4 separate regions of the Homo sapiens genome follow, and regions 2, 3 and 4 are each linked to region 1. The links come from fine-mapping of genetic effects on gene expression. A gene starts in region 1. Each other region holds a variant in brackets. All regions are shown on one strand. Distances are between the middles of the regions.

Region 1 (4,000 bases):
CCAATAATAGCTGCTGCCGGTTTTTGCAATCTCAAAGTGATTCTGAGAAGGATTATATCCCTCTATGTCCCAAAGTTGCTCGCAGGGTTTTGGTGTGTAAATACAGGTCATTAATTACTTTTATAGAAGCAAAAGAGAAACACTCAGATATTCTTCCATAGCTTCATCCCCAAGTCACTGGCAGCGCCCAACAGGAAGCCTCCGCTTCTGGAGGCCTCAACCCGTCTTAGATTATCTGAAATCTTAACCATAACGAATTAGGCCCGAATCATTCAAGGCCAGCGGTGTTGGGAAGCCCATGATCCAGCGCGGGGGGCATCCCAAATATATTCACTGAGTCTCGGGAGCCGTCCAGGGACTCTCAGAGCTGGGTCACTACCTGGGACCAAGCCTGAGGCTGGTCCTTTAGGTCAAGGCAGGTCCCGACCCGCCTCCAACTTCAAATGGCCCCCTAGGCGGGAGAGGGTCACTGGGCGGGGAGTTCCTGGCTGTGCGGTCACACACACACACACCGACTCACACACACACCCACAACACCCCCCCCACACACACACACTCACACACACACCGACGACACACCACACACACATACATACGCGCGCGCGCACACACCACACACACACACACACACACACACACACACACACGCCGCCTCGCGCGCGCTCGCGGCACAGCACCGACTTCCCAACCCCAAACACACGCGCGCACCCCCGGGACAGCTGAGTTCTGTATTTCCTCTTCCTCAAAGCGACTCCGGCGATCGCAGTCGCCACTCTCCGCTCCGATTCCCGGGCCCCCTGGCATGCCGCCGCCCCCTTCTCTGAAGGCGCGCCCGGTGCGTCCCCTCTCCGAAGCCGAGATTTCCACGAAGCTCCACAAAGCTCCCCGCCGCCTCTCTCGGTCTCGGCGGAGACCCCGGTGTGTCCCCGGGAGGAGAGTATTTACTAACCAGAACCTCAGGGGCTCCCGGCTGCCCAGACCGCCCTCTCCGGCCCTCCTGGCCCCCATTCCTCTGGCCCATCACCGCCCCCTCCCACGAGCGCGCTCGCCGGGGGATTCCCTCCCATCCCCGAGTGCAGGAGAAGACGCCGAGTCTGAGCCGCAGCCGCTTCTCTAGCTCTATAGGAATCTTGACTCCAAGATCCCAGCCCCACATCCCCCGTCCCCAGTAACCCCGCGCCAGCGTCGCAACCCTCCCGCGCCCCCCCTCCCGCAGACCCTGGTCGAAATGTCTCGGCGGGCTCCCGGGCCCCGGGCCCTGCGCTTCATCCGCGGGCGCCGCACCTCCAGCGCCCCCTCCCTCCGCTCCCACTCCCACTCCCGCCATCCCCGGAGCTCAGACTTCCCCAACTGCAGAGCGCCCCGACGCGCCCGCAGCCCTCACCCTGCCGAGCGCGGCGGCCACCCCCGCCCGAGCCGCGGCGCCCCCAGGGAGGAAACAAAAGTGTCTCCGCGGCGCCCGGAGTCCCCCGGAGCAGGACGCCTCCTCCCGGCCCCAGTCCCGGCCCCCTCCCCTGCCGCGCCGAGGTCAGCGAGTCGGGGCGCGGCGCCAGCCCAGGAAACTTTACGAACCTGCTTGGGGTCGCAGGACAGCAGCGGCAAGGGTTCCCGGCGATCAGAGCTCCGGCGACCCGCCACCATTGAAGGGGAACTGGAGGCTCTGTCGCCCAGCGTGGGGCCGCGGCGGCGTGGGTGGCTCTGCCTCTATCCTGTGCCCATCCTCGCCCGCTCCCGCTCGCCCCAGCACACGCACTTACACTCTGGGTCGGCCGGCTGCTGCACCGCCGGCTGCCGCTGCTCTCACTTCCTCTTCCTTCCTCCTGCTGGCCAGAGACACATTTTGCATCTGCAAGGCATCCGGAGATCAGCCGCGAACTCTCCTCCCGAGCGGACGCTGCGGAGTTGCAGCCGCCGCCCCCGGCACCTGCGCCAGGACACTCGTGGTCTGCGCGTTCGCCTTGCGCCCGCACCCTGCCTGGTCCCTGCCCACTGCACTTTGCCTAGGGGGATGCCCACGACTTTTTGAAGTCCCCCTACTTAAAAGACAGAAATGTCAAACACCATGCATGCCTCAGATCTGCTATAAATAATATGTGTGCAGAGCATGACTTCGATGAGCTCACACACGGCGTTTGGAGGCACTAATTAACTCCGTCACCCTCATAGCGCCATCTCCGGGAGGCCAAAAGCGAGTAGCATCTTTTCACATCCTTTTTTAATTTTTGGCAACCGGTTCCGGATATTAAGGGGAAACTTCGGTGGGCTGTTTGAACGCTACTTTAAGACGTGTTTGTTTTGACGCTGTGCCTCTACCCTTGGACAGAGTGGCAAAAAAAAAAAAAAAAAGTTTCCTCCCTCTCCGTCGACATCTATGTATTTACTAACCCTGCAATTGAAACTACAAGATGTATTTCTAACCAATTAAGCCAGGGACTTCCTAATTTTGCATAACTTTGCATAAGGCAAGACGTTCCACCCATAATTTGATATTTAGAATAAATTACTTAATTCATGCAACCTACTTAAATCATTTTCAAAGCAGAAATCAAAAACGTTAACTCCCAGCCTAGCTGGCAGGAGGGAAGAGGGTTGCAGGCGAACCACCTGTCCTCCCCCAGTTCAGAAATACCTACATTGGCTCTACCGGAAAAGTCAAAGGCAGTTCGGCATTTTCTTCTAATTGGCAAAGGAAATAAGTCGGGGGCAGGGAGGCATCAGAATCAAGGTGGAAAACTAAGCTCCCTTTTAAGATCTTCCCCCTCAAGAGCCACAGGCAGCTGTTGAGCACTTGAAATGTGGCTATCCCTGAGATGTTCTGTAAGTGTAAAACAGACATACAATTCAGTATTTTTAAAATGAATGTAAACTAACTTGTTAAGTATGTTTATGTTGATTACATTATTGCAATACATGAGAATAGTCTGATGTAGTAAGTCAGTTGGATTCGTCATGTGTTGGGTTAAGATATAAGCATATATAAGATTAATTTCACCAGTTTCTTTTTACATTTTCTGATGTAGCTACTAGAAAATGTAAGGCTACACATAGGCTCTCATTAGTGGCTCACCTTATACTTTTAATGAACAGCTCTGATCTAACTCCTTATTATACGCATGACTCTGGGAGGCAGTATTAGTATCAAGAGTGCCTGGGTCCAGATGGTTATAAGCCAGTAACTAAAGCAGGGTGACTGCAGGAAAGCAACTTAACTTCTGTATTTCCTCATCTATAAAACAGTAATGATATAATAACAAAAGTCAATAGCACCAACTATTAAATGAAGTAATTTAATAAGTAGTCAGTAAATGGAGCCTTTACTAACGATGCTCTGAGACACTTGTAGTGATAAGTATGAATTTGATCTACAACCTTGTAGCTAAGGCATATAAAGACCTTAACTTTAGTGCATGCGTGGTGAGCACTCAGTAAACATTAGCTGTCATAATTGTTCCCTCCTTGCACAGCAATTATGCAAATCCACTCCCCTGTAACCTTTGGTCCCGGGTCTTCACATCTTTCCTCCATGAAGTAGTCTTTCAGATCTTTGAAGTCAGCCCTCAAATTTTACCTAAACACTCTCTTTTGAGGATTAACCATCCTCAATTATTCTGACTCTTCTTCATGTGACATGGCTTCAAGTCTCTCTCATTTGAGCCATCTTCTCCCAGAAGAATATCTGTCTCTGCCCTTTAAAAAAAAAAAAGAAAAAAGAAAAAAAGAAAAAAAAGTAGTCTTATAGATTAATTACGTAATTAACCATTAGCAAACACAATACAGCCTGAGATCTTCTCTCTCTCTCTCTTTTTTTTTTTTTCTCAAATACATCTCAGTGTTGATAGGAGTGCAAGGGGAAGACTGGAAATTCTTTACAGTGTTACGGTTAGGCCATGTGCGGGAACATGGAGTTGATCTTTGGAACCAAAGTTCCTGATCCACTTTCTCTAAGTCCCTTAGGATTTAATTCAGGCATCCAGTGTCTCCCCATATCCATGGATTACAT
Region 2 (7,752 bases), 90 kb before region 1:
GACAAAGAGCTATGGCACTAGAAAGGAAATAATAACTTTGCTTTAAGTTCAGGGAGTTTTTAGATTTGAAGTTTTGAGGGCATAGAAAAGATTCTAGGTGAACGATTGTGTTGACAGAAATCGGAGGGGGGAAAGTTAGGGTAAGATTCTGGAAGGATTGACCTACATTTGCAAAGGCAGGAAGTCACAGAGAATTGCCTGAGCAGATGCCCTGATGGAAAATAAGAGAACCATTTTCCCTCCTGACCACAGGTCTAGTCCTCCAGGAAAGTTCTCTGAGAACACAAAGGTGACCAGGACTCAACTTGTTCTAAATCCTTTCTCCGCAAGGAGAAATGGATGTCATCTTGAGTTATGAGGTGGCTGAGTGCTTTAAGAAGGCTCACAGGGGAGCTTCTGCACAGAGGGGGATCTGCCCCACTATTACTGCACATCTTCACCAACTGTATGTTCTTCCAGCCTTGCAGAGTGACATCTGTCCTTTTCTGTCTGATCCTCCCAGCAACTAGACAGAGGGTAGTGTTAGGGCTTAGAAAACAATCAATACCCCAAAGTATGGAGCTTTGGCATGCTGAGTACTCTGAACTAAAGAAGACTGGAAGGTCTCAGAACCAAGGTCTCTCTGACCTCTACTGCTCTCCTTTCTCCCATCTCTCTTTCCCCACTGAAGCAACTCATAAAAAACAAAATTCCATGGTGTCTATGTGCCACATTTTCTTTATCTAGTCTATCATTGATGGGCATTTGGGTTGGTACCAAGTCTTTGTTATTGTGAACAGTGCTACAATAAACATACACGTGCATGTGTCTTTATAGTAGATTGATTTATAGTCCTTTGGGTATATACTCAGTAATGGGATCGCTGGGTCAAATGATATTTCTGGCTCCAGATCCTTGACGAATCACCATACTGTCTTCCACAGTGGTTGAACTAATTTACACTCCCACCAACAGTGTAAAAGCATTCCTATTTCTCCAAAGAATGAGTTCATGTCCTTTACAGGGACATGGATGAAGCTGGAAACCATTATTCTCAGCAAACTAACACAGGAACAGAAAACCAAACACCCCATGTTCTCACTCATAAGTGGGAGTTGAACAATGAGAACACATGGACACAGGGAGGGGAACATCACACACCGGGGCCCGTGTGATAGGGGAGGGATGGAATTACGAGAAATACCTAATATAGATGACAGGTTGATGGGAGCAGCAAACCACCATGGCATGTGTATACCTGTGTAACAAACCTGCACATTCTGCACATGTATCCCAGAACTTAAAGTATAATTAAAAAAAAAAAAGAAAAGAAAAATGATCAATGGATAGGAAGACAAATTCACAAAATCCTTTAAGCATTTCTTAATAAAAGCATAATAAATAAATAAAAAAATCCTCTTCCACAAAGTGGGTCATAGAAACTAGAACCTATCTCCACCAAAGTAAACCATGAAACCTAGGAAGGTCACTCTCTTCCTTCTTCCTTCTCCCCAAAGACCCTCTTTCCAGAGGAGTCCTGCCCTATATCCAGGAGGAAGACATGCTACACAGACAGACCAATAAGAATCTGAACCAACAGCCCTTGCTGAGGTTCCTCCTCAGTCATACTGCCATTAGGTCACACCCTTTGTCCAATCATAGTTCTATATGGCTGTCCATTCTTTATCAAGCCTAAACATAAGAATAGTTATGGGGCTTTGGGTCTTTGTTTCTGGGGCTTTGGGTCTTCATTTCTGGGGCTTTTGGTCTTCGTTTCTAAAGGCTCCCATGTTATATAAAACTTATATTAAATAAATGTGTTATGCTTTTCGCTTGCTAACCTGTCTTTGGTTTCAGGAGTGTCAACAGTGGCCCATATGATGGTTGAACACAGGTATCACACCCTTCCCTGCTATAGTAGGCATAATCCACCTGGGGCCTAATGAGCTTTGCTGGCGAGACCTCAGCCCAGCTGCCCCCCAGAAGCTGTGGTTTTAGTGGAGACTAAGACATAATGATTACTCAGCTTCATTCCTAGGGTTGTCTTATCATGGCTCTAAACAGCAGAACCTCAGAATGTTTCTCAGGAAAGATGCAGTTAAAAAACAAATTTCCCCCATTTTCAGTGCTGTAGATATTTTATCTCTCTAGTTATTAGCCACAAACCTACCCTCACTAGTAAGACAAACAAACCTATAGATTTTTTCCTTCTCATCTCTTTCACTTTAGGAGGCTCTGCCAAAACTCCCTGGATTTTATGATAAAATCTCTTCCTTCTAGTTTTTATCTGAGCTGCCTCACATGTTTGCTGCAGTTTGGTTTAAGATAAAACACAGTCAGGGTACATGCTATCAGCATGGCCATACGGCCATACTGTGAGAGCTTTTCACACAAACATCAAGATGACAGTGGAGCCAGTGGGCCATGCTTAAGAACAAAAAGACTTGTTCCTGCTCAAATGCATAGATAAATAAGATCTGAGGTGCTGAATGGCAGTCTGTGGTGCATATTTGGGGGGAAAGTGGTCTGTGGTTCTATTCTGAAAGCCAATATTATTGATTACATCCTAGGGTTGCTGATCTGCTCACTGGTATCCCAGGGCATTCTGAATGAATTGTTTTTTTAATGCTCATTTTCCCCTCAAGTTAGCATGGGCAGAGAGCTTCCCCACAGCCTGTCTGTACTCCCTGGGAAATTACCAGATTAAAAGCTGGTAAGAGGAAAATAGAGAAACTTCCAACCCTGTGTTGGCAGTTTGCTAATTTCATACTTCTGAAAATTTACTTTGATTTCTCCTCTAGCCTCCATTAACAGTATACTGATAATTTCAAATGCTTTGTATCTGCATTCAGTTCTAGCAAACTTGAAACTCAACCTGCTAATAATATCCACTTTGACAAGGACTCTATTGTGCCAAAACCAAACTAATGACAATAAAAACAAGTACACAAATACAGACACACAAATCCCTAGCTAGACTGATGAAGGCAATTGTGAAAAAAATTAGAGAAGGCCATCTTGCATCTTATTGCCCAGAAAAATACCAGATATTATAAACCCATCTGGAACACTTGAGTTCTGCTGACAGGTCTGGTAATGGGTACAGATTCTGGGGCCTAGTTATCTGAGGTGTGAATTTGATGAGAAAGGTCAAAGAAAACCAGATTCCACTGGACACCTAAAAAATCTTACTTTTCTCAGCCTTTCAAATCTTACTTTTCTCGGCCTTGATTTGAAACTCCTACAAACTTTATAGAGGAAATATGGGGAAAAAAAAGAGAACAGGCTTTGGAGGCAGACAGACCTGGACTGGAATGTAAAAGCAGGTAATGTGTTAAGCCCGGGCACAAGCTGACCAGATTTGCATTTTACCTTTGCCTACATGAAGAACAGACTGGCATGGGGCAAGGATGACGGGGTAGGTTGGTAAGAAAGTGACTGATGGCAGTGACTTGGGCTGGAGTG[G/A]TCGTGGAGACAGAAAAGGTGATGGATTTATAAGCTATTTAAAAAATCAAAACAATTGATAATAGACAAACAGGGAGAAGCTGGAGTCATTGACGAACCAGGATTATGGCTTCTATAACAGAATAGGTGGTGATGTCATTTACTGAGATAGGACTACTCCAAATAGAAGATGGACTCTCTGCCAATTTGTTGACCTGTATCAAGGCAATGGGTGTAGAGACTCATCTGGAGGAACCAGTGGTAAAGTCCAAGCCGTCAGTGCCAAATACAGCCTTCCTACTCCTTCCTTGCAGGACTATCTGCTTTACTGCAGATTACATCTAAAAATGCACAGCCATTTTCTCCTAATAAGCAGGAAGGCAGCAGAATACAGCAGTTAACAACCACTGATTGGACTCTGACTGTCTGTATTCTAATCCTAGTTTCACTACCTCCTAGCCTTGTGGCTTTGGGAAAATTCCTCTCTGTGCCTCAGTTTACTCATCTGTAAAATGGAGCAAACCACAGTACCTATGTCAACAATTTCTTAGGATGAGTACTAAAATGACAGTAATAGCCAACACACCTATATAACTTACCCTGTGCCAGGTACCCTATTAAAGAGTGTACATAGATTAACACATTCAGTCCTCACAACAGCCCCGTGACAAAGGCGCTATCATAATCCCCACCCTAAACATGGGTAGATGGAGTCACTGAGGAAACTGGTCACTTATTTGGCTAGTCAGCAATCTAGCCCATCCGAAGGCAGTGTTCTGAACCATTACCCTAAACTTCCTTGGACCTTAATATGCACAAGGCTTAGAACAGTGCCCGGCACCGAGTAAGAGCGTGGCACATTATCCCTGACTCTGAAAGCCAAATCCAGGCTGGTTCACAGGGAAGAAAAAGGCTTTATGCACTTTTCCATTATTGATCACGGTCACACCTTTTCACTTTGTACTTGTGTAATACTGACTGCGACACGGTGAACTTGCTTCTGACTTTGAGTCTGTGGACAGGAATCAGTTATGGCCTGAGATTTTCAAGCTCCACAGAGACTCCATTTTTGATGCTGTGATAGAAGCTGCAACTTGATACTACCTCTGAGAGTCAGCTCTGCGGAAAAATACCCCTGGCTCGGATCATAATTTCCGTTCTGGTAAAACGGGGATCTTTTCATGACCTCTAAGCTTTTACCTTTTCACTTCATGAATGGATAAACTTTGTGTGAGTTGAATATACTCTCCCTCCCCTTAGAGAAAGAACAGAGAGATTCTTTTATAAGCAGATAAGGTGATTTTATTTCCACTAACAAGGAATAATCTTAATTGACATCTTGCTCTGTCAGAGTACAGCCTCAGAACAAGTACTCAAAACTGAAAGAATCACTTTTTGGTAACAGGCCCCAGCATTTAATGAGCTTATTATGGCAAAGAACCTAAATAGCAAATCAATTCACTTAGGTGCAAGAGAGTTCACTGGGAAGTAACACGGCTTAAAATGAAAGTTTATGAAACTTAACTGAAATTTTAAAAAAAAAAAAAAACACCAAGGTCGACATTTCAAACATCTACATAAAGTTTTTCCAGGTAAAAATTAGCTCAGCCACACACTTAAAAGACAAAACTCTAGGGGTCCAACAGATGCATAACTTTTTAGAGAAAAATCCAGAATCTGCCTGTGGGTAGTCCTCGGTATACCCAGGAAGAGCTAAAGTGGCTGCCTATTCAGAGGTGAGATTAAATTAGGCTTCTCACATTTCAAAGATTTCAACCCAATACTCAGCCCAACTGAGTAGTAAGGCCTGTGTGGTTTTCAGTAACTGCAAAGTGTAAAGAGAAATTGCGCTCTGCCCCCTTATCAGTAAGTCTAACACTGAATTAACTGCCATCTACAAAGGTGGTGTCTACATTGTTCTCAGGAAAATTTTATAAAAACCTTAAGATTAAAGAATAGAAAATAGTTTAATAATATATGGCAAAACTATGAGAATAAGAGTCATGTAAAAAATTCACATTAAAATATGAGTGACACTGGACAATATTCACAACATTTTCAATGATTCATTTACATCCATTGACATTTGAATATTAATAAGTATTTACTTCAGTACACACTCATTATGATGATAAAAACTTAGAACAACTAGAATTCTCACACATTGCTGATAAATAGTAAGACTTTGAAAAACAGTTTGGTACATTTTTAAAAATATTAAGTACATATTTATCATATGACACAGCAATTCTACTCTTAGGGATTTACCTAAGAGAAATGAAAACAAAGATAGGTGTATGAATGTTCATAACAACTTTATTCATAAAAGCCAAAAGCTCAAAACAACTCAAATGTCCATCAATCGATGAATAAACAAAACGTCATCCATACAATGGAAGACTACTCAGCAATAAAAAAGAATAAACTGCTGATACATGTAACAATAGAAGTAAATCCGGAGTGAATTATGCTGCATCAGATATTGGCACACTCTAGCTTATGGGCCAAATCCGGCCCTCTCCCTATTTTTGTAGTCAAAGTTTTATTGGAACAAAGCTACACCCATTCAGTACACATTTCATACTACCAACAGCAGAGCTGAGTAGGTAGATCCTACAAAGACCATCCCGCCTGTAAGCCTAAAATATTTACCATCTGAGTCTTTACAGAAAATGTATACCAATCTCTACGCTAAATAAAAGAAGTCAGTTATAAAAGACAACATACTATATGATTCCATTTCTAGAAAATTCTAGAAAAGGCAAAATTACATTGATAGCATGTCATCCGGGCACAGTGGCTCAAGCCCGTAATCCCAGCACTTTGGGAGGCCAAGGCCGGCGGATGGCTTGAGCTCAGGAGTTCGAGACCAGCCTGGGCAACACAGGGAAACCCTGTTTCTATAAAAAAGACAAAAAAATTAACCAGGCGTGGTAGCACGCACCTGTAAGTCCCACCTACTTGGGAGGCTGAGGTGGAAGGATCTCTTGAGCCCAGGAGGTGGAGGTTGCAGTGAGCAGAGGTTGCACCACCACACTCCAGCCTGGGAGACAGAGACCCAGTCACACACACAAAAAGAAAGCCTATCAGGGGTTACCAGGGGTGAGGTGGAAGCAGAGTCTGCAAGGGGGCACAAGGGAACTTTTCAGGGTGATGAAACTGGTCTATTTCTCTTATACGAGGTAGCATGAAGAAAATAAAAAATAAAATAAAGCTGTAAAATGGTCTGTTTCTTGACTGTGTTGTGATGGTTACATGACTACATACATTGGTCAGTATCACTAAATGAAAATTGATTTTATTGTACCTCAATAGAAATGTATATGATATATATATATATATAATTTCTCCGTTACATCCTTGTGCCAGGTATTACCAGGTACTACCTCCCACCAGGTATGCTTCTAGGTATTGAGCACAAGACATTGAACACAAAACACAAAGTTTCTGCTCAGATGGTACAGTTATAATATGACAGGGCCACCCACTGTCCCCCAGTGGACATCTGGCATGGGTAAGCCTGTGATAAGCCACTAGCACTTTTAAGATTGCTTGGACCCACGACAGAGTTTAGCCTAGACTAACTAATACAGGGCTCATTTCTGAGTCCTTGTCTTTCTCCAGGCATCGCCTCTAGGTAGTCTCATCCAATCCCATAGATACATTTTAAATGTATATCCTGAACCCAAGCCAACCAACCTTCCTTCATTCCTTCCTTCCTTCTTCCCTCCCTCCCTCAAATAGCCAACTGCCTACTTGACATAGCTACTTAGGTATCTCACAAGCATCTCAAATTTAACATATCAAAAACTGAACTCTTTCCTCCAGAAGCTATTTTTCCTTCAGATTCCTCACATTAGAAAATGGCTTTGTGGTACACCTTTACACCAGATTTCCTGCTTCCCCTCTTCTGAGCACTCTAGGGGACTGCACTTCTAGCCCCCTTGCAGGATAAGGCCACAGCCATACATATGACTCTTGTGGCTAAAGACATGTGAGTGGAAGTGACAGAGGCACTGGAGAGCCAGGTTCTCTCTTCCCTTGCCACAGTGAATTTGGTAGAACGTGTACTGATATGGAAGGCAGACTAAACCATTGAGTTTGAGGACAGCTGCCCTGGAGGGTCACTTGGACTTAGAGCAGATTTTGCAAGACAGCAAACTCTGTTGCAGTAACCTGAAATGTTGAAGATGCTGTTGTCAGAGCATGAACTAGCCTCCTCTGATGACTTCGGGGCCCTCTGACAACTTCAGGGCCCTCTGATGACTTCAGGTGCTTGTGCCAGACCAAGGAGTCCTTCACAGTCCTTCTCCCTCCCCTCCATGTCCA
Region 3 (7,752 bases), 45 kb before region 1:
TGCCCATCTGAAAAGTCCACAAATTTCACATAAACATGTGAGAGCTTTAGGAAACGGTGGAAGAGAATACAGATCACCCCTTTCAGTTACTCCAGAATATTTGATAAATTCCATTTAGAGATACCAGGAAAGATCAAAACTTCTACTTTTTAGGAATAACACTTAGACTGATGGCCATCTTCTTATCTCCCCGCTCCAGACCATCAACTTGACAAGGAAGAGCTAGGATTTAAACTGCTTTTTAAATGGCAAAGAAATTCCTTTTTCTTTAGGACAGAAGAAAAAACAATTTTCTTCCAACCTGTGCACAATATGGGTATTTGGTACAGTTTTCAAGGCAAAAAATCCTAGGGATTTTGCAAAGGACTTAGGACAAGACTAATAGCCTTGTCTCATCTTGGTCCAAAAGTTTGACTCTTAGAATTGAAAGAGACATCCGCCTGACTGAATGCTTTCACCCTTAATTTTATCTGCAGAAGTTTAATTCAAAGGAAAACCCCTAGGAACCCTACACTGGGAGGAAGCTTAAGTAAGTGAAGGTAAGCTTGTCCAGGAAGAAGTGGGAAGCCAGAGCCCTGCCCTCTCAAATCCCATTCACTCTCCCTGCAGAGATGCCTACACTCATGTCAGAAATATGGGGCTCCATAAAACACAGTTTGAAAGTGATGGAATAATTCAGCCCTCATGCACAGATAAAATAAGGACATTGAAGGGATGGGTTCAGGACCTACCACCCCAAAACATGGCACCTTGGCATTTGAGAAAACAGCAGAAGCAGGAAGGTCACTCTTACCTTCCCCTCACCCCTTTTCTCCTAAAGCAGATCATAAAATCGAGGAAGGATTTTCTGACTTTTCTTTGAAGCACTTTGTAAGAGCCTCAGGAGACAGTGTATTAGTCTGTTCTCACACTGCTATAACGACATACCCAAGACTGGGTAATTTATAAAGGAAACAAGTTTAATTGACTTACAGTTCAGCATGGCTAAGGAGGCCTCAGGAAACTTATAATCATGGCAGAAGGGGAAGCAAACACATCCTTCTTCACAAGGCGGCATGAAGGAGAAGAATTCAGGCAAAAGCAGGGGAGAATCCCTTAAAAAACCATCAGATCTTGTGAGAATACACTCACTATCACGAGAACAGCATGAGGGTAACTGCCACCATGATTCAATTACCTCCTAGTAGGTCCCTCGCATGACATGTGGGGATTATAGGAACTACAATTCAAGATGAGATTTGGGTGGGCACACAGTCAAGCCATATGAGAGAGACTCCTTCCCTATACCCAAAGGAAAGGAGTTGAAGACATAGAAGTGAGAAGAAGAACCTGATCAAACAGGCCTTGCTAAATTTCTCACAGTTCATTACAATTAGATCACAGATAGCTCCTTTGTCCAATCATACATCTCTAAGACTGTCTACTCTTCACCAAACCTAAGCATAAAAATACACAGGTTTACCCGCTTCTTCAGGTCTTTCGTTCCCTATGAAGACTCCTGTGGCACGTAAAACTTACATCAAATACATGTGTATCCTTTTCTATTGTCAATCTGTCTTTTGTTATAGGGGCCTCAGTCATGAACCTGTTGATGAGTGGGAAGAAGCTATTTCCCCTCCCCTACAGCAACAAAAAGTTACAAGTGGCTCCAGCAATATTCTGCTTGATAAATGGATGAGGCCAGGTTGTGAGTGAGAATATCGTTACAGGAAGAAACCATGAGCAGAAATTAGAGAGACTCTAAATTACTGTTTCCTGGCCTCTATGCAGCTAGAGTGACGACAGAACCCATTTGGGGTCAGTAAAACATCAGAGAAAATCTGCTGGGTTTTTCGTGGGGTAAAGGGGTGTTCACTTTTCTGAAAAAAGGAACAAAATGGAAGGATAGCTCTTGGTGTTTCCCCTTCCTCTTTCTTCCTAAGTGTTTGGGAACTTGATGCCTGGTGCTACAGCCGCCATCTTAAGACCATGAAGTATGAGCAGAAGACAGAAAGCCAACATACTTATGGAAGAGTAGAGGGAGAGAGAGTCTGGATCCTTGAGGACAGTCTTGAGCTATTTAATGAATCTGAAGCCATCTGATCCCTGACTTCTGGTTAAGTAAACAATTAATATCCTTATACTAAAGGACACTGTTAGTCTGTATCTCACCCAGTAGAACACACTTCTCTGGATATTTCAGAATCAGGGTATTACACCTTAAAAGTAGTACCTGCATTTTTCCACATATTATCTTTAATTTCTGTTCCCAAACTACAGTCACATGGAAAATAAAAAAGCAAGGGGGAATGATGTAACCACCTTTGAAGATAGTTTGGTACCTTCTTACAGAGTTAAACGTAATCTTGTCATACAATCTGGCAATAATGCTTCTAGGTATTTACCCAAACAAGTTGAAAATGTATGTCCATACAAAAACCTGCACTCAAATGTTTAGAGCATTCTTCTTCCTATTTACCAAAACCTGCAAGCAACCGTGATGTCCTTCCATAGACGAATGAATAAACTGTAGTATAGATACACAATAGAATATTACTCAGCAATTTTTAAAATGAGCTATTAGGCCACAAAAAGACATGGATAAGTTTTAAATGCACATTTCTAAGTGAAGGAAGCCAGTCTGAAAAGCCTAAATACCTGTATGATTCCAATTATATAACATTCTAGAAAAGGCAAAACTATAAAGACAGTCAACAGTTCAGTGGTTTGCCTGGCACAGTGGCTCACACCTGTAATCCCAACACTTTGAGAGGGTGAGGTAGGAGGATCACTGGAAGCCAAGGTTTGAGACCAGCCTGGGCAACACAGTGAAATCCCCCCAACTCTGAAAAAAAATCACTGGTTTCCAGGGGTTTGGAGGCCAGGAGGACGGTAGGGGGGTGCATAGGTGAAGCATCGTGGATTTTTAAGGCAGTGAAATTATTCTGTATGATATTGTAACAGTAGCTACATGACACGGTGCAACTGTCTTTCTCATTTATTTATTTATCTTTAAGACAGGGGTCTCACTCTGTCACCCAGGCTGGAGTGCAGTGACATGATCACAGCTCACTGCAGCCTTGACCTCCTGGCCTCAAGCAATCCTCACACCTCAACCTCCAGAGTAGCTCGGACTACAGGCACACATCACCACACCCAACTATTTTTTTTATTCTTTGTAGAGATGGGGGTCTCACTATGTTTCCCAGGCTGGTCTCGAACTCCGGGCCTCAAGTGATCCTCTCACCTCAGCCTCCCAAAGTGCTGGGATTACGGGCATGAGCCACCATGCCCAGCCCATTATGCAATTGTCAAAACCCATAGAACATACGACACAAAAAGTGAATCTTAATGAACTGTTGTTGTTCATTCATAATAATGGATACTAGTTTAATTATAACAAATGTACCACACTAATGCAAGATGCTGATAATAGGGAAAACTGTGTGGATAGCAGGCATATATTGGAACTCACTGTGCTATCTAGTCAATTTTTCAGTAAATCTAATACTTCTAAAAAATAAAATATATTAATGGGGAAAAAAAGCAAGAGAAAATGAGGGGTGGGAAACAGAATCCCTAAAATTGTAATCATTTTTTCTCTCTAATCAGTCCAGAAAGAAATTCATTTTAAGGTATGCATGGGAAGGTTTGGGCCAGCACTTTCCATCCTCACTGGTCCACTCCCTCTCCCATACCACCAAGACCCATCTCTGAATGTCTAGGTGGCTCCCCCTTCCACCTTCACTCCGTGTGGCAGGCCTCTCCCATGCACACTGCATGCTGTCTCATACAGGTGACTGTGCGCCATGATTTCTATGGGTATCTTATGCTCTTTCTCATTTGGTCCTATCATGGCCACTCCCCGCCATTGGCACAGCTTTCTGGTGCATCCCTAGGTCCCACGCTATTTTTAACCTTTGATATTGACATATCTGACAAACAATGTATCCTTTAGATGCTTCTCCATGTTAA[C/T]GGAAGTAACAACCTGGTATATAATAAATTCCCTGGGCCCTTCAGGTTGTTCCAATAAAGGTTCTCCTATAACCAAGACACTGTTTAAAGAAACACACCCCATCTGCGAGGCCCAGATGCCAATCAGTGTTGAGATGTTCCTCCTCTTTGTGGCAATGTAGCAAGGTTTGCAAACTTAGCATAAAAAGGAGATACTACACCCCAGTACCAAAAGTTTCCTGGATCTTTTTTTCCATAGTTTTCTTTGGGGCTTGGAAGGCTGGCTTAAATTTTTAGTTCTAAATAGATTGTGGTCGCAACTGGGTAATCGTTACTTGATGAAAAACAAAATATCCAGTTTTTAAAAAACATTCAGCTATTGCTTGGCTCACATCCTTTCCCCTCTTTGTTCCCCCCATTTTTAATTTTTTTCTGAATAAAATGCAAACAGCTCATGATCAGGAGTCCTCATTGTAACTATGGGCTCTGAAATTTGCCAGAATAAGGCGTTTGCTGAGCAATCATTTCCAGGAGAGAAGTCACTGTGGCCAGACCAATGAAGCAGTGGTAATGTGGGCCACCGGCACTGGGGGACTGAAATGGTCGTGTGAGAAAGCATAACTTTGAGTGACAATGGGATTTTATCTGAATGAATCTTTCCCAAGAATAAGGCATGGATGCTTTTTATACTTCAAGACCAAAACAACAACAATGGGGAAAAAAAACCCTAAGAATTCCTCCAAAAAGGTCAGGCTTTATTGCAGGTCCCAGCCCTTGCACATATTGTTCCCTCCTCCTGGAATGCCCAATGTTTCCGACCCCCTCCCCACGCCCCAGACTCCACCTTGTCTCACCTCTGCCCCCATGTCTGTCTGTCACACCCAGAGCTTGCTTATCTGCAGTTATTCTTCCAAATCACGGAGAAACACAAAATCCAGATAGGTCTTTTAAGTACAGCAAACACACTTCCGTGTGCTTTAACTGACACAAATATGTGTGATGAAATGAAATGCACAGAATCGCAAATGTTATCCTTATAGGCAATGTGTTCCTTCATTTCACATTTTAGGCAATCACAAAGCAATTAAACTTCTGTGTGCACGGGACACTGAAGTCATGTGTGGCATGCTTCCTGGGACTCAAGGCGTCGGGCTTGTTAATGGGAAGGAGGGAGTCAGAAAGATAGGCTTATTCATTCCCTGGCAGTTAAAATACAGACTGGCTGAATCAGCCCAGCCAATCCTCCTCCGATACTCCAAAGGCTTTCCAGGGGAAACCAGAGTGTCTTGAACTTGCTAGCCTCAGAGGACAGTGCATATGCTGTCCCGCCCCAGAGGTCAACTCCGCTGGTCCCAACAGCTAGCCTCTGGAAAGTTGGCCTCAAGAGAGCTGACCACGAGAGCATGGGTCAGAATTCACTGGAGAACCCATCCTAATATGGAAAATGTCAACACTTGCTTCCCTTATCAGTAATTCCCAGTCCACCGCAGCTACAGGCAGAATCAGAAGTCAAGCTCAAGCTGCAGAGCTGAGATACCACTGGGATCTAGGGGTATTTTCAAGCCGTTAAGCAGACCTCATCTCCCACTCCTTGCATCTTAGGGTTCATTCCATCATTCATGGGAATGCTTGAGTACTCACGCTGGTTCAGGCCCTGTGTATAATTAGTTTGGGAAACAGAAGCTTCTTGTTAGTGAAAATAAAGATGGTACAAGTGAAAAATCTGCAGTTGGTGCAAGGGAGAAATCTGCAATATTACTCTTTTGTTTTTTTTTTTTCTCTCTTTGTATATATTCCACCCTCATGGCAAATATGAAAGATTTCCATTGGATGAGACACTGAACTCAGTAGCCACAACAATGAGGGGCATAATGCAATGAAACTAAAAACATATTCTTAGGAAAGAAAAATGAAAGTGAGGAAGTAAGAAAATTTTTTTTTTTTATGAGACAGAGTCTTGCTCTGTCACCCAGGCTAGAGTGCAGTGGCGCGATCTCGGCTCACTGCAAGCTCCGCCTCCCGGGTTCACACCATTGTCCTGTCTCAGCCTCCCAAGCAGCTGGGACTACAGGCAGCTACCATCACGCCCGGATAATTTTTTTGTATTTTTTTTTTTAGTAGAGACGGGGGAGGGGTTTCACCGTGTTAGGCAGGATGGTCTCGAACTCCTGACCTTGTGATCTGCCCGCCTCGGCCTCCCAAAGTGCTGGGATTACAGGCGGGAGCCATCGCACCAGGCCAAGAAAATATTCTTAGTCTTGTTTTTTGCATCTTTAAAATATAGCATTAGCTAGAGGATCTCAAAGGTCCTTCCAAGATTAAAATGGTATGACTCACTAATAATCAGGAAATATAAATTAATATAACAGTAAGATAGATACCCACATTCACTCTTCAGATAGGCAAAGATGAAAGAATTCATCAGTATTAACTGTCAGTAAGAATTTGTAGTAAACAGAATCACATACACTGCTGAATTGGAGGGTAAATTAATATAGCCTGTGTGGAGAACACTTTGGTAATTTATAATAGCGTTGAAAAAACTTACAGCTATACAAAATCTGCACGCATGTTTACAGTAGCCTAACATATACTTGACAAAACTCAGAAGCAACTAAGATGTCCTTCAACAGGTGAGTGAATAAACAATGGTACATCCACACAATGACACAGTATTGGGAGATAAAAAGAAATGAACTATCATGCCATGAAAGAACATGGATGAGGGTCTGGCGCGGTGGCTCACGTCTGTAATCCTAGCACTTTGGGAGGCCGAGGTGGGCAGATCACGAGGTCAGGAGTTCAAGACCAGCCCGTCCAACATGCTGAAACCCCGTCTCTACTAAAAATACAAAAATTAGCCAGGCGTGATGGTGGGTGCCTGTAATCCCAGCTACACAGGAGGCTGAGGCAGGAGAATCACTTGAAACCAGAAGGCGGAGGTTGCAGTGAGCTGAGACTGCACCACTGCATTCCAGCCTGGGCGAAAGAGTGAAACTCCATCTCAAAAAAAAAAAAAAAAGAACATGGATGAATCTTAAGTGCTATTTCTAAGTGAAGGAAGCCAGCCTAAAAAGGCCACAGACTGATTCCAACTATATGTCATTCTGGAAAAGGCAAAACTATAGAGACAATAAAAACATCGGTAGTTGCCAGCAATATGCAGTGAGAGAGGGATGCATTTGTGGACTGCAGGGGATTTTTAGGACAGTAAAATTCTTTTGTATGACAGAATAATGGTGGATAAACGGCATTATGCATTCGTTCAATCTCATAGAACTGTAAAAAACAAAAAGTAAACCCTAAGGCAAACTATGAACTTCAATGAATAATAATGTATCAATATTGGCTCATTGCTTGTAACAAATGTTAATAAGAGGGAAGCCCTGCTGGGGAAAGAGAGGATATGGAAACTGTACTTTGTGCCCAATTTTTCTGTAAACCTAAAATTTCTCTTAGAAAAAAATTGATTAATTTTTAAAATATTTATTAATTTTAAAAATAGTAACTTCAAAAAATTGTGTCAAGTCTGTAAGTGAATTTTACATTGGTAAAGAACATTGAATACCACAATAAACATATACAGTAGCATTGGATTTTATATCCACACTATATTTGTAACCTTGTGTTCCCCATACTAAAGAAATAGCTATCATGCAGCAAGGGTTCAATAAAATAATGCTTGTGAAACTGCTCTGAAAGCAATAGAAAGCCTGGCAGAGGTTTAATTCTAATCACAACCGGTTACACAATAGATATACATAATGAAGTTGAAACCCCCAGGAAGAATCTGGGCAGTCTGGCTACCTGATTGTGCAT
Region 4 (7,752 bases), 460 kb before region 1:
CCACCAGTGTTGCTTCACTACAAAATGTTAAGTAATATTATCAAAAGAAAGAAGTTGTAAAGGACCCACACAATTTACTCCAACCAACATTCACAAGGCATTCTTGGGAATTCTGTCCAAAATGCAGGAAATGGGGACCACTGGGTCAGAAGGCATTCCTGATAGGAAAGATGGTATTTAATCACATGGATTTTTTTTTTCTTACTGTTTTGCAGAATTCTTAATAGAGCTAAGGGAAAGTTTAAGAGGACTGAGCTTAGAGTGAGCTTTGGCAAATGGAGGCCAAAGCTCACTCTAAGCTCAGTCCTCTTAAACTTTTCCAAAGCTCACTCATTTCACCCGTTTGATTTGGGTGAAATCATCAACTGGGGACATCATTAGGAGACTAAGACTAGATGCCTCTAGGAAGGCTTTGCAGGATGGTTTTGATCTAGTTATTGAAGAGACTGATTACTTTTTCATGGTGAGTTTTACATTAAAATAAATCTTTTGGGGAGTGAAGATATAGGATAATATCTGGTATTGAAGGCACGGATTTGAAGACCAAATTAACTGAAAGAACTATTTAGTCAATATTTTCTCGCTAAACAAAATTTGTAGAATTGAATAAGATGATAGCAATTAAATCACTCCTTAGCCTGAATTTATACTTGTCTTCATGAAGAATTATCTGCTTGTAACAGAGTTACCTTCTCAGTTATGGTTTGTTTATAATTAAAATTAAACCCACGTTCCATACTGAGTTGAGAGAGGGGCCAGAGAGCACAGTAAATAGCAGGGCCAAGATAAGTAAGGATGAAGAAAGAAATGCCACAGATGGATGAGTGCCGACTTTCTGCAAGAGGAAACAGCATACTGTTTTAATTCCCCCTTGCCAAACAGTGTAATGGAGAAACTAAGATTTAGCTGTCCATCTTGAGTTCACCATGAGCAACGGTGAAAGTAAAAGTTAACATGTTTGTGAATACTAACATTCTGTTTCTCTGTTACCAGAGCAGGTGGTCCAGGTACCTTGTGGAGGTAAAAGAGATAAAGGTGCTGTGGTATGATGATGGAGTGAGAGAAGTTACTGGCCTAGTGTGCAAGGAATGTTCTGAGATCCTAGTGCCACACCATCCAGTAGAGTAGCCACTAAACACGGTGGCTAGGGAAGCCTTGGTGAGTGAGTGTGGTGAGTGTGACTGTGCAGCTGAATTGTAAATTTTATTTAATTTTAGCTCATTTAAATTTAAAAACCAATACTCAATTCAGTTATTTATTGGAAAACTTTGATGTATGTTTGGAACAACTTGTGCACATGAATCTACTTTTTTAACTATGAATTTTATGAGATCTAAATACAGATTTCCTGTGAAAATCCAGTATCCAAATTGAGTTGTGTTGTAAATGTAAAACACATGTCATATTTCAAAGACTTAACATGAAAAATTCAATGTAAATATTTTGTTAATAGTTTTGTAGATACATGTTGAAATAATAACTTAGACATAGCAGGTAAAATAATACATATCATTAAAATTAACTGGCCTGTTTCTTTTTACTTTTTTCAGGTGAACTACTAGAAAAATTAAAATCACATACTTAACTTGCATCATATTTCCATTGGACAGCATCAATGTAAAATGAGATCTGCTATATTGTCCCTGTAGTACATTTTTTGTAGTCTTGTTAAAATGTCTTCTACACATTTACATACCTCGTATAATACTAGAAAGTGCATAATACTAGGCAAGCATAGCCAAGAACCCATGTTTAAAAACCTGTTACCATGACCCCTACAGATTCCTTTCCACTTAGCATTGCAATCTTGCTTATTTTTTTATGTCAGATAAGACATCTAGATAAGATGAATAGCTTTTATTCTTCCTTCTAGCAGCCTAACCCCTTCTTTCTCTTTTTTATTGTTACATCTTCATTGTGAATCCATTTATAAAACAGATAGAAGGGGAGATGCAGTGGCTGAACCAGGAGTGGAGGATTCACACACCCATCCAGCTCCACATTGCCCTAGCAGCCATCAATCCTCCCTCAAACTCTGACGAACACAGTTTCTATTTCTGAGCTGGGCCCGCCTCCCCTGCTCACAAGGTCTTGAGAAAGCATGGTAGTCCTGGTGATTCCTACAGCCATTGCAGTTCATGGGAACCCCCAAACTGGCTGCCTGGTTGTTCCTAGTTGTTCATCACCCTCGCCATTGCTTTGGCCACTGCAAATCATTCCTGGCAAATGTAAGCAAAGGGCAGCCATGGGACACTGGTGACCTGTCACCTCTCCCAGATGGCCCAGAAGGAACTGGTCTCCTAGGTAAATTGACCCAAATCATACCAGGCAAATAAATGCTACAGGAATGAGATGGTGCATCACACAGTAACATAAAGGGGCAACCAATGGGGCATTTTGTGATGGGCTTTTTACTTAGCTCAAACTTCCCAAATGGCGTTATTAATAATTCACCCAACCACCCCAAAATGCCTTTTCAATTTGACTTTAATTATTGTGGTGATTGTTTAATTCAACTACCTGTGGTCTGACTCCACTTGACAGACTGACAGGCTGATGAAACCATCTTCCCCTATATACTCACTCTCCTTCCACATATGAATGCAGCAACAAGTACATCGACATGCATGAAACACCAAACACTTGTCAGTTCCTAGCTGGATAAACACCGGCAAGGTCCTTAATATTTTGGCGACTAAATTTCCTCATCTAAAACAGGCAAAAAAACTTAGTCCCATTAGGGCTGCTGGAAGATTCAATGAATTATTATATCTACATATAAAATGTATTGAGCAGTGCCTGGCACACAGTAAATGCTCAGGACAGATTGAGATGGGGCTGCAGCATTTAGCGGACCCATCTGAAAAGAAGGAGACAATGAACTTCAGGGTATGATACGTTCTTGGCTATTCCCCCAGGACAGGGATCTTGCTTTACCCTAAAATGCCTGATTATCAAAGTGTTATGTGTTTGTGCATGAATGCGTTTTTAGGTGGGGGGAGCAGAGAGGAGGTTCATAGCTTTCACATTCTTAAAGAGTTCCATGATCCAATAATAGCTTAAGAACTACTGTTTTAGATTTTTTTTTTTTTTTTGTAAACATTTTTTACTGCTTCCATAAAAAGCTGGTTTCTTCTCTCATTCTTACCAACAGGTGCCAGCACTTCGCTCATGTAAAGTGACACTAGTGGGGGAGAGAAGAGGCCAAGGCGAAATGGACATTGACTCTAACGAGCTGACTGTCACTTAATGCACATCCTCTAGAAACCAGACTTCCTCAAAATCGAGCATCGAGGTGTACTGAGGAGTGTGGTGCAGCAGGCAGAGTTAACATGCACACAAGCTCTTCCAGTCAGGCAGAATTCTCAATGTATCCAGCCATCTGGAGCCTCATGGGATCAGAGAGCAGCCTACATCTCCAGAAAGGCATTCAGCTAACAAACAGGTCACTGACCTTGTCAAGTGACCAGGTGTCCCTGATGCATTGTCACCCGCAGTTAGGAAATTCTCCCTCTCCTGCAACGTCAGCCCTACTTCTTTAATAGACAGAGTAGAAGGTCTCTCCCAGACACCCAGTCGCCCTCACCCTGCCTTGAGTCTTCTATAGGCGAAAGCTTTCTAGCTCTTCTGTTTCTGTAACCATTCATCACAGGTCCCATTTAGGATAAAGTAAATTCTATTCTAGAGCCACGTGAAGACCCACAGCATTCTCCTGTGCAAAAGGACATTTTTTAAAAAGGACAACCAATAAGATTTCTCTTGTTTGACTATTTCATGTGCATTTCTTCATAAACCAGATGCTTCATTCTCTTTTCCTCTCTCCATTATTTGAAGTCAAGTGGACTGTAAATAGAAGACATCAAGTGTGCTATGACACTTTCAGGCACATAAGACAGGAAATCACATTTTAAAAAAAGTAACATGATGAATCCTCAAAATCAGGAGACAATCAGGGGAAAAGATCTTAGGCAGAGATAGAAGCCCCAACTTCAGCCCCCACTCTCTGCAACCCAAGCCAATGGCATTACCTTTCCTCTCCCCGTTCAGAATGATTATAACTCGTCTG[G/A]AATCCTGCTCGGTGCTTGGGTTGCATCTTGCCACATACATTTTTAAGTTTGCAGCTAGAAGGGTCCCTACAGGCAAAGAGTTTCTCGTTCCCCACGCTGCCCCTCCATTGCCTGTTTATAGTACTGCTTTCTTGTTCTTCCTGTTTCTACCCAACGAAATTGAAAATTTCATCACCAGTGTCAGAAAATTAAACCCCAGGGAGCAGAGCAATAGCTCAGAGCATCCCTTTCCTGGCAGAGAGCCAATCCTTGAATATAACTTTGCAAACCCTCTCTGGTTTTTCAGGGGTTTGAAAGGATGCAAAATAGAGTCATTTTGAAGCATGCTTTTTGACTGCTAAAATCTTTCCAATTGCACTTCACTTTATCTTTGCAATTAATTAAAAAACATATTTCAATTTGGAGACAGGTTTCATAAAAGGAAAGGACATGACCTAGCTCAGTTACACATTTTCCAAGCAGAGAACAGTGGCACACGGAGAAGAGATGCTTCATTCCGTGGCTGGGGGTCTGAAGAAGTGTTTGACAGACCATTGTAATAACATCTCTCTTCACAATGCAAACACCAGCAACACAATCAAGCGGCTCCGGGCTCCGTGCCTGCACCTTTTTCTCTCTTCCTAGCAATACACAGGGTTGACTCTTATTATTAATGTAGCTTTAAAAGCATTTTCTCTTGAAATGCATCAACACCCAGGGAAATAAAGCAGAACTCTGCTCCTTACACTAATCCTAACAAGACAACCAATGTCCAAGTATAATGTACAGTCAGCTACAAATCGGATCAGACCCAAGCAAAGCATGCAGTCTTTTGAATTCAGAGTCTCCTACATCATGGGAACCCTTGAATGCCCGCTCCTCCATGTGCTTGTTCCAATTCAGTTTTCTCGGCAGACAATAGGACAAAGCTACATTTAGCTCAGGCTGATAATACCGGTGGACACATGTGTGAGACGGAGGTTTACTCACCAAGCTCCCGTAAGTCCATCTTTCCCAACCACAAATACTGATTCTAAGCTGCTGCCACCACAAAGCGACTTAGAGTCGTCCCCCTGAAGAACAATGTGCTGGAATACCACCAGATGGTTCCTGAGTAAGCTTGTTCATGAAACAGGTTTCCAGTTGAGCCATGTGAACAGAGACCCGCCGCACACCTTTAAATGGTATACACTCCAAGTCCAGAAGAATAAGCATGTAGCTTTGCTTATGTTTATGGAGCTGGAGCCCAGGGATGCTCCGATTGGCAGGAGTCGGGGAAAGATCAGCCAATCAAAGGGCGCCTCCATTTCAGGGAAACTCCTGCTCATTTATTTAGCATCTTCAGAGATCATCGGCTTTTCCAGGAAGAGCTTTTCTCTTAGAGTATCACAAGAGAAAAATAATAACTTCGTTTCTATTTTAGTGTCCTATGCTCTTTTGTCAATAAACCCATAGCTCCCCGTCTTGGTACTTCTCAATATATCCCCCACTTTTTCTTATAAAGAACTAAAAAACAAATAAGGACAAGAAGAAAAAGAAAAAGCTGGTGATGGGCTGGAGATAGTTCATATTCATCAGCCTCCACCTTGTTGGGAGAAGTGGGGGAGTGCCTGGGCTCAATAATTACCGATTCTGTTGCCATAGAAACAGACTGGCTGCAGCGAGTTGGATTCGTGCAGAACATCTGCTGCCAGACCCATAATCAACTGCAATCTCATCTCTTCCCCTCTCTCTACTTTTATTTGATTGTGAGTTTGCTTTCTCCTACCTTCTCTTCACACACAGTTTTTGTCCAGAAATGTCATAGAACCACCTCGCGATACCTTGCCATGTACACACAAGGCATGCACACCAGGGGTGCTCACATACTCAGGAATGCAAGCATTCCAGAGCATCCCAGCAGGGGTCCCACTGGGAGGATTTATACTCTAATTCCTACCCAGGATGTAAACAAACATAAACAGCCTCTACCCCTAATTAAAATTACTGCAACTTTTAACCTAGAGAATTAGAGGGGTATCTTTAAAAATATTTGTTGCCTAACAGCCCTGAGAGCTCCGCAAATAAAAGTTAAAGTTTGCAATGGTATTCCTCAGAGGGCACTGCGGTGGTTCCTAGCCAACCTTTGGAATGAAGCGATTACACTGGCGGCTTGTGGAAGATTTTGTAAGTACGGAGTGTTCAGGCCCAGCTCTTTTCTGCATTAGCACCTCATCAAGGCGCCCTGAACACTAGGGATCTCCCTGGATTTCCTCAGCCCATTTTCATCCCCTCAGACTCCTCCCCTGCTTGCTCCAAATTCCCCGGGTTGCATGACTAGAATTAATGTCACCAACTCTGAATGTGCTGCCATCTCTCTCCTTAGCAGCAGGGGTCGCCACTGAGCAGTGAATGGCTGCACATCCTGGTCAGACTCGAGGGGGCTCATAAGGTGGCAATCTCACTCAGGGGTCTGCGGAAGCCCTCAGTTCCACAGAGATTGATGGAAAATGGTAAGTGTCACAGAAGGCACCGATTTGGGCTTATGTTAGAGAGAAAAGAATTACTCTCTGCCCTATCGTCATCTGCCTTGGCATCATAACAACCTCAAGGAGAACCTTCTCTTCCTTAAAGGTCTCTGCAAGCCTGGGACCCTCAGCCCGTAATGACCCAGATGAGGCTTCTGAGGAGACTGGGACCTGCTCTTTGTGTGTTTCTGATTCTTGAAGCCAAGCTGAACTATCCATCTACAACACATCCACTGTCTAAACAGCAACAGTCGCCCTCAGCCTCCTTTCTTCCTAAATGAAGCTCAGTATAAACCCCATATCCATCCAACTCCAAATGCTCAGCTATAGCCCACTGGTGTTTTGTTTTGTTTTGACAGTCTTGCTGGAGTGCAATGGTGTGATCTCGGCTCACTGCAACCTCTTCCTCCCAGGTTCAAGCGATTCTCCTGCCTCAGCCTCCTGAGTAGCTGAGATTACAGGCATGTGCCATCATGCCTGGCTAATTTTTGTATATTTATTAAAGATGGGGTTTCACCATGTTGGACAGGCTGGTCTCAAACTCCTGACCTCAGGTGATCCATCCACCTTGGCCTCCCAAAGTGCTGGGATTACAGGCGGGAGCCACGACGCCTGGCCGCCCATTGGTCTTGATGTTGGATTTGTACCTTCAAGAATATGAATCCTGGCTTTCCATTTTGTCTCTTTATGCCACTAAGTGTAGGAAGAAAGTCTCACCCAGGTACAGCACCCAAAGCCAACACTGTCAATCTTTCTCAGCTCTGCCCAGACAACATTCACCCTCAGGGTGGTGGATGGCTCAGGTTTTCTCTACCATCTTTCTGGAACATCTCCTCTTAACTGTCCTGCCTAGTCTCCTCTGCCATGGGGACACCCACCCTTTGCCTTCCCATCCTCTTGAAGGCTGTCCAAATCCTCAGTTTATGCCAAAACCATCATTCCATCCAAGTCTTCCTCAATCAAAATTTAATAATTTTCTCAACAAATATTTAGCAAGTATCTATGCCAGGCACTTGTGCTAGTGATACAACAAACTGACAAGGTTTCTGCCTTACAACCTGCAGACTCTAATAGAGGAGGCAAAAATATTAAGCATAACTGTGATATGGAGTATAAAAACAGAGCTATGAACTCTGTGTTCTCTTAGCACAAATAATCACTTAGTGAGATCAGGAAAAGCATTTCAGAGAAAGTGACAT

Which allele goes with the higher level. Alleles are on the strand shown, and positions count from the first base shown. SD is a standard deviation of normalised expression in the study named. Not every link is listed here.
For the expression in liver of the gene that starts at base 1,762 in region 1, allele C in region 3 goes with a higher level than allele T (small effect, 0.27 SD a copy in GTEx).

The links. PIP is the estimated chance that this variant, and not a neighbour inherited with it, causes the effect. A credible set is the group of variants that fine-mapping cannot tell apart.
Region 2: its variant is the best candidate, but not a certain one, in a credible set for the expression of ELMO1 in aorta (GTEx, PIP 0.57).
Region 3: its variant is the best candidate, but not a certain one, in a credible set for the expression of ELMO1 in liver (GTEx, PIP 0.68).
Region 4: its variant is the best candidate, but not a certain one, in a credible set for the expression of ELMO1 in whole blood (TOPMed, PIP 0.52).

Annotation. Positions count from the first base shown.
Region 1 is chr7:37,447,103-37,451,102 of GRCh38, forward strand. ELMO1 (engulfment and cell motility 1) reads right to left here and starts at 1,762. Exons shown (of 22, transcript NM_014800.11): 1 at 1,573-1,762. RefSeq lists silencers at 1,402-1,451, 1,462-1,511.
Region 2 is chr7:37,355,469-37,363,220 of GRCh38, forward strand. All of the region lies in intron 1 of ELMO1 (engulfment and cell motility 1), which reads right to left. Among named protein-coding and RNA genes, the nearest start is that of ELMO1, 90 kb to the right of the region's middle. RefSeq lists an enhancer at 1-106. The variant G/A (reference allele first, on the strand shown) is at 3,445.
Region 3 is chr7:37,400,569-37,408,320 of GRCh38, forward strand. All of the region lies in intron 1 of ELMO1 (engulfment and cell motility 1), which reads right to left. Among named protein-coding and RNA genes, the nearest start is that of ELMO1, 44 kb to the right of the region's middle. The variant C/T (reference allele first, on the strand shown) is at 3,955.
Region 4 is chr7:36,980,887-36,988,638 of GRCh38, forward strand. All of the region lies in intron 16 of ELMO1 (engulfment and cell motility 1), which reads right to left. Among named protein-coding and RNA genes, the nearest start is that of ELMO1-AS1, 13 kb to the right of the region's middle. RefSeq lists a silencer at 5,758-6,052. The variant G/A (reference allele first, on the strand shown) is at 4,067.